Homo sapiens: one gene and its partner. The protein of the gene in region 1 purifies or fractionates together with the protein of each later gene. This does not show direct contact. Each region holds a gene or a part of one and is shown in the gene's direction. Other genes may lie near its edges.

Region 1 (4,246 bases):
ATAAGCCTTTATGGAGTTAAGCCCCGAGATACTGGTTTTGCTAGCCTACTCCAATTAACGCACCTTATATTTACCACCAGTGGTAGCATAAGTGAAAAGAACCCCTGGACTTAGTTCCAGGACCCGGGATAAAAATTCTGGCTCTACTACTACCCCGACATATCCCATGATCTGCTCCTAGAATATGCTCTATACTCTTCCCAACTGCGTGTCTACTGCATTTTCCTCTTTCATTAGACAGCCCTCCTGACTCTTCTCTGCCTCACGATTTCTGTCAGAGTGGGGGGCCTTCTCTGACCTCCGTCCCATACGTGGTCACTTCTCTTTGCTTCAAGTGCAGCGTACGTTCCTCTGTTTTAGAATCTACGTTTTTATTGCAAATATTTGTTGACATGTGCTTCCCCAGACTGTGAATCCTTTAACTCCCAGCATTTAGTTACAGTGTCTGGCACACGTAGAAAATAAATATGCATTAAACGAATGATTGTCACATATGACCTTAAGTGAGTCAATTATTTTTTAAGTCTACTAAATAAAATTTTTGAAAATTGTTGTAATGATGAAATAAGGAATGTGAATGTGACTTGTAGGTTATAAACAGATTCTAACAGCAATGGGTTTACTCACTGTTTGTAGGCCCTTCTCATCTTTTCTAGTCAAATCCATCTTAATGCTGCAAGGTAGCACTATCCAATAGAAATATAATGCAAGCCATATTTATAGCCACATTTAAAAAGTTAAAACCAGGTGAAATTAATTTTAATATATTTAACCCAATATACCCAAAATATCACTTTTTAAATTAAATCTTCTAAATCTTGGAACACATCTCTATTCAGACCAGCCACATTTCGAGAGCTCAGGTGTCACCTGCGGCTACGGCTCCCGCAAATGGGACAGCAGCCGCAAGGCCAACTTCAGATAGCAACCTGACTTCCCCTCAGGCAGAATAAGTGACTCCTCCTCAGTGCTCTCTCAAGCCCTTTATCCTATCGTGAAAACTAGAGGGTACGCTCCTTGAGGAATTCCAGACTGTTGTCTGGAGAAATCGCTCTCGGCCTCGGTCTGGCCTGTAACGGGCGGTTACGCAATTCCAGGTAATTGACGAACCCTGAGGACAGAACTCCGTGGGAGGCCCAGTAGCCAGAGCGGAAAATGGTCAGTCAGGCAAGAGTGCGGGCAAGTGGCCACAGCAGGCTGCGATTCCGGCGCCCGCCGCCCTCCAAGCGTCTCGGGCCGCACCCTCCCCACAGCGGCGGGCGCGGAGGTCCCGGGTTCGCGTTTGGGGGCGCCTGAGCCGCAGCCCCGCCCCCTCCCGTCCCTCCCTCCCTCCCTCCCTCCCACTCCTCTCCCTCCCACTCCTCTCCCTCCCACTCCCCGCACCTCCGCCGCCGCAGAGCCCCGGAAGCGGGCGGGGATTTCCTGTGCCCGCCCCGCCCCGCCCGCGCCTGCCGGGCCGCCGTCTCCGCCTGTCGCTGGCTCCGCCGGCCGCCGGCTCCCAGACGCAAGCGGAGGGCGGAGGGGAGGGGCAGGCGGCGCCCGGGAGGGAGGCACCGGGCCGCGGGCCAAGCCTACCGGGGGTGAGTGGAGCCGGGCCGGAGGGAGCTGCGGCTGGAGGGAGGGACGCCTGGCTTCCCGGGGCGGCTGGTGGGGGCTCGGTCACCCATAGGGGCTGGGAGGAGGATCGGCGCGTCTTCCGGGTTGCTGCCTTTCCCGGGGGTCTGCCCCGCTGACATTCTGTGCCCGCCTCTCGCCCTGTCTCCCCGTGCCCATCGCAACTGTCAGGCCCTGCGGGCTCCCGCCGCTGTCACTCGCGCACAGGTTACCCCGTGGCTCCCTTTCTCTTCACTTGCTCATGCCCCAGCTCATGGGAAACCTGTTTTCTGACCTCACTTCCCCTGCTCCAGTTCTGCCTTGCTCGGATTCTCTGAAATCTGACCCTTTCCAGGGGCACTGTGACAAGAAGAAGGGAAGAAGCAACCTTACCCCTGAGCAGGCTCCCGTCCCGCCCATGCCCTACCCGTGGCAGGGGCCAGGGTTCTCTGATGGACGGAGCCAACTCGTCCGTGTGCCCTTGGGCTACTCATTTTTATAACATGGCCCCTTTTCTGTTCATCAGCACTGGCTGCAGAAACTTCCTTTTGCAGGTCCCTTGCTACCCATATGTGTGAAGAAAAGGGGGAAATGAAAGCCCTAGAACCCACACTGCAGTGGGCATGGGATCATCCTGGAACCAGGAGAAACGAGGTTAGGGCTACCACCTTAACCGCCCAGGTGCTGGCTCTGCGTGAATATCTTAGGAAATGCAAGCTGAGGACAGGTACCCATCCCATCCTTTGCTGAGATTTTTGCTAGCACTTCCACGGATTTCTGTCAGTGGTATAGAAAAACTTACAGCTGGCCCAATGGGCTCTGCACAAAGAGGCTTCCCATTAAGAGACTCTGCTACCTGGGGGAGATGGAGAAAGGGTTTGAGACAAGTGTCCAGATATGTAGCTAGAGGTAAAGCCTTCAGGGAGGATTTGCACAGGAGCTAGAGAACCAGAAAGATGGGACGAAGAGGGAGAATTAGTGCCCTGTGTGTTAAAAGTGGATACAGAGCTGGAATTCAGAGAAGAGAGCTAAAATGGAAGTTTCCCTTTATTGCTTTAGCAAGAATTTTCCTTTCTCATGAAAAGTCTCTGAAAAGGAAACCTCCTAGGCTGGGAATCAGTCCAGGGTGCTCCCATGAGGCCCTGAGCCATCTTTGGACTTCTGAGATAAAAAGGGAATTTGTTTTTCCTGTGCATTGGGCTTAGGGTTCCCACCTACCTCTTTTGTCAAAGACAAATAGGCAAGAAAATAGACGACTTGACATCTGTGATTACCTACCCTGGCCTTCAAGGTTCTTGCAAGTGTTATTGAAAGGATGTAAGTAAGCCAGGATAGTTACCAAGTTTCTGACTGCTCTTGGAAGCCTTTCACTGACTCTGACTGTTTGGATATTGAATAAGAATACCCAAAATATGTTGCCAAACAGAAAGAGATTCTGAGTCTCAGATTATTTCTCTGCCATAAAGCCCTATCACAACAGAAGTGTGACCCATCCTGCTCTTAAGTTGTCTAAAGAAAAAGAAGAGCCCACTATCTGGTATTGTACACTGCAGGATTATTAAGAATTAAAAAAAAATAACCTAAATCTCTTCTCTTGCAATCAAGACCCATTTTTTTCTGTTTGACCTATATAGAGATAGAAGGGACCTCTGTTTTTATTCATTAGTAGCATCATTCATCAGCCTTCTTCTCCAGACAGAGAAAACTACATCCGACATTTTTAACTTTCCCAGTGGCTGTATTTCCAATCCCTTTCTTGACTTTGATGTTTTCTGATGAACACACACTGGCTTCACCATACGCTTCTTTCAAACTGAATATATTTTTCTAATGAGATCTGACTGGTGCCTGACAAATAAACAGGTTTGTTCTTCTGGGTCATGTTAGCAGCAGTTCTTCCCCCCTTTTCCAGCTCTGGTTCAAACTCTTTCTGTTCCTTTTTACTTTTCCTGATTAAACTTCAGCTCCTCACAGACCAACAATTTCTCTTACCTCTTAGGATTACTTTGGAGTCTTAACACCTGCTTTCCAAGTTATCAGTTTTTCTACCATATTTACTACCAGTTTTCATTGGATGGTAGACCAAGTGCCTTTTTATTGAGGCTTGTCCCAAGTGAGGTACCTTTTGGCCCAGCCTCATGATACAAATACGCCCCTTGGTTGGGACTTTTACCTATAGTAATCATTTCATTCTAAACTGATGAGACTGTGATTTGTGGCAGAAAATCTTCTGTGTGATTACATCCATCTTGTTGAGTGCAGGTCTATATGTATTTCTTCCTGTATGTTTCCAAATTGCTTACTTTCCTGTACTTCATGTGCTTGAAATTAAATGGATAGCCTTTGAATTTCCAGGACAGTTCTTTTTTTTTAAATGAACTTCTTCTAACCTTCAGGTATATTCTGTTTCTATAATGAGGTCCACAAAATACCAGTTAGTGGCTTTGCTACGTAGCACCTGCCAATTTCTTAGTTCCTCCAAGAAGCTTGGTGCAGGCTCCGTTGATCGGAACACATCAAGCTTTTAAAGTTCATCTTCCAGCAAGCTCCTCCTATCTAGTTTTGTCTATTATCCCTGGGCCTGTTCTTCATAACTCCCTTAGAAATATCACTCCTTTCCCATTTTCATGGGCATTGCTGATATGAATTTGTT
Region 2 (3,500 bases), about 15 Mb from region 1:
GCTTAAGGAACAGGATTGGCGCCAACGTTGTGACTTAGTAGAGAAGAGAGGCCTGACTCAAGTTTGGTGGAGGAGAGAATCTTTGTCATCCTTGCAGATGGGGGAGAAGGGGGAGAGAGTAGGTGGGACTGCAGTTATTTAACTGTGATTTTCATTCTGACTTATCTGCATTACTTCTGTGACCCTCCATAATTGACTGTGTTTCCTACTGACCATGTAAGGAGAGCAGATGCCCTTAATTATGGTGCAAAAGATGCAGGATTGAACCTAATTATACAACATAATGTTATGGCAAAGAGTTGAGGAGCCTTTCCCAAGTTGTTTTTTTAGATAAGTGGTTTTCACTAGCTTTCCAGTTTGGTACTACAGTAGATACTTTGCAAATTATTAGCTTAAGAACGGTATAGCATTTGATTTGTTTGGCCCATCTCCCATATACCATATAGTGATAGGATTATCCCTATTTATACTTTATTAGAGGCATTAAAAATTGCTAAATGCAATAGTCATTTGTTGAGCTAGTCCTGTGTGTAGGTTCTCTATTAAGCACTTTATGTATAAGGATTTAATGAGATGAATGCAACGTAGGTAAGTTATTTGTTCAAAGTAACAAAGCTTTTTAAGTGGCAGATCTTGGATTCATATCCAGTTCTGTGGAACGCCTACCTTTGGTGGTTTTTCACTGTGTCTAATGAAATACTTAAAACATTTTTAACCATGAGATACTCATTATAGGAAATTCAGATAATATAGACTAGTAAAAGATATGAAGAACAGAGTGAAAAATGTTTGTTAATTCATTAGCCACTGTTAGTATTTTAGATTTGGTCTCTCAGATTTTTTATATAGGTATTTTTTTAAAAAAAATAAAAGCTGATCATATGTTTACATGTCTTATAACATGTCTCCTTCACTTAAGAATATAAAATGGTCCCCTCTTCAACGTATATTATTTTCTTTTTTCTTTTTCTTTTCTTTTTTTTTTTTTGAGACGGAGTTTCGCTCTTGTTGCCCAGGCTGGAGTGCAGTGGTACGATCTCGGCTTACTGCAACCTCTGCCTCCTGGGTTCAAGTGATTCTCCTGCCTCAGCCTCCTGAGAAGCTGGGATTACAGGCGCCCACCACCACACCCAGGTAATTTTTTTGTATTTTTAGTAGAGATGAGGTTTCCTCATGTTGGCCACACTGGTCTTAAACTCCTGACCTCAGGTGATCCACCTGCCTCAGCCTCCCAAAATGTAGGGATGACAGGCGTGAGCCACCGCACCCGGCCTCCAACATATATTCTTATATGTCGACTGCCTAATATTCCATTGAAGGGCTTCCCATTCATGAATCTCCCATTGAACATTTAGATTTACTTTTAGGCTTTTAGTGAATATCTTCATATGTTTTCTTCAGCTCATTCAGTTGTTTCCTTATGATTAATTTCTAGACATGGAAAGCTTGGTTAGAAGCTATGCACATTCACAACTGTGATACATATCAGATTGGTTGTATCAATTCACACTGCAGCCAGCAGTGTCTACCACTTTAGTATTAAGCCTTTAATATTTGTCAGTGATCTGATAGATGAAATATACTTCATTGTAATCTGTTTGATTATTGAAGAAAATGAATAAACAGATGTATATACTTATATGTTATAGATATTTATTAGCCATTTAAATATCTTTTTGTTGTTGTTGTTGTTTTTTGAGACAGAGTCTTGCTCTGTCCTGCAGGCTGGAGTGCAATGGCACAATCTTGGCTCACTGCAACCTCCGCCTCCCGGGTGCAAGCAGTTCTCCTGCCTCTGCCTCCTGAGTAGCTGGGATTACAGGCATGCGCCACCATGCCTGGCTAATTTTGTATTTTTAGTACAGATGGGGTTTCTCCATGTTGGTCAGGCTGGTCTCAAGCTCCCAACCTCAGGTGATCCGCCCACCTCGGCCTCCCAAAGTGCTGGGATTACAGGAGTGAGCCACCGCACCTGACCCATTTAGAGATCTTTTTACGGTTTTCCTGTTTATATTCATTTTTCTGTTGAGATAATGTTTCATATTTATAAGAGCTCTTTATATTTTAAGGCTGTTCACCCTTGGCCTATTATGTTGTGATATTTTTTCTAACATGTTCATTTTTTAACTTCATTTTTTTTCTTTGCAATGCAAAATTTAATATTTGGGTGGTCATACCTAATCTCCTCTATGGCTTCTATTTCATATCAGGCTTAGAACATGTAAAGTACTAGAATAACCATCCTACTCCTTTTAGCTACTTACTGCCCTTGGTTGCAACTCATAGAAATGCCTTTGAGCTAACTTTGGGGTGGTGGGGGGAAGGAAATGGTGATTAGATACCAACTGTCTTATAGAACCCAAGTATAGGAATAACTTGGATTTTACAAGGGACTGGAACCCTGAACTAGAAAGCTATTCAGCAACAAAGTGGCCATTCTTTCAGTCTTTCACCAGGGCACGGGTGACTTCTCCATGCCACCAACAAGCAACCAGACCACATCAACTGTGGCTTCAATTCCAATTTTGAATTTTTGGGAGAGAGACTCCAATAGGTTCAGTTTGTCTCAGATGTCCACCTTCTCCACAGGTGATTATGGCTGCCAGGACCCACCCCTGAAAATGGGCAGTTCTTTAAAAAGGAGGTGGTGGTAGTTAGGGCTGGGCAGATAGTTTCGAAGATTCTACTACTATAGATAACTCAGTCAACAAATATTTGAGTACCTTATTTGTTTCAGGCACATATTAGAAGACAGATGAAATGACCAAATAGACAAATGTGTCAACAGGCAAATAGTGTTTGTGTCTGAATGTGCCTGCTGCCCTGCCTTGCAGACCTTGGGGAGCTGTCTAGGCTAGGAATTCAAAACTGCCCCAAAAATGCCATAGAAGGGATAAAGACTCAGGCCAGCTTTGGAACTAAATATGGCTATATGGCTTGAAGGTTTGTACCAATAAATGAGTATTACATGTTAATATAAGATGATGTAGCTCTTCAGCCACAGGGGTATAAACCTGGCTAGCATGACACACCAGAGCTCTGCTCATTGTTGTTTGTTCATTTGTTTGTTTTTTTGAGATAGTCTCGCTCTGTCACCCAGGTTGAAGTGCAGTGGCACAATCTTGGCTCACTACAACACCTGCCTCCCCAGTTCCAGCAATTCTCATGCCTCAGCCTCCCGAGTAGCTATGACTACAGGCACATGCCACCACGCCTGGCTAATTTTTGTATTTTTAGTAGGGACGAGTTTCCTCATGTTGCCCAGGCTGGTCTTGAACTCCTGGCCTCAAGTAATGCACCCACCTTGGCCTCCCAAAATGCTGGGATTGCAGGTGTGAGTCACTGTACCCCACCTGCTCCCTGTTATTTTATTTCTTTTGCTCATCTCATTTGTCTAGGCAGGTAGGGTAATGACAGACATATTTGGTGAATGGATGTTTATTTTATAAAACAAAAGTTCAACTTCTATAGTTTCCCCTTTTTTAATTAGTCTAAGATAT

Evidence for each region. The genes of interacting proteins can lie anywhere in the genome.
Region 2: the proteins of ZNF641 (region 1) and PPM1H purify together in Homo sapiens (affinity purification with mass spectrometry; one large-scale study listed by BioGRID and IntAct). This does not show direct contact.

What each region holds. Positions count from the first base shown.
Region 1 is NC_000012.12:48,348,120-48,352,365, reverse strand, and holds the start of ZNF641 (zinc finger protein 641), read left to right. Parts: upstream 1-1,446; 5' UTR 1,447-1,580; intron 1,581-1,649; exon of another isoform or gene 1,650-2,303; coding exon of another isoform or gene 2,304-2,320; intron 2,321-4,246. UniProt on the Homo sapiens protein: Transcriptional activator. Activates transcriptional activities of SRE and AP-1.
Region 2 is NC_000012.12:62,925,151-62,928,650, reverse strand, and holds part of PPM1H (protein phosphatase 1H), read left to right. Parts: intron 1-3,500. UniProt on the Homo sapiens protein: Dephosphorylates CDKN1B at 'Thr-187', thus removing a signal for proteasomal degradation.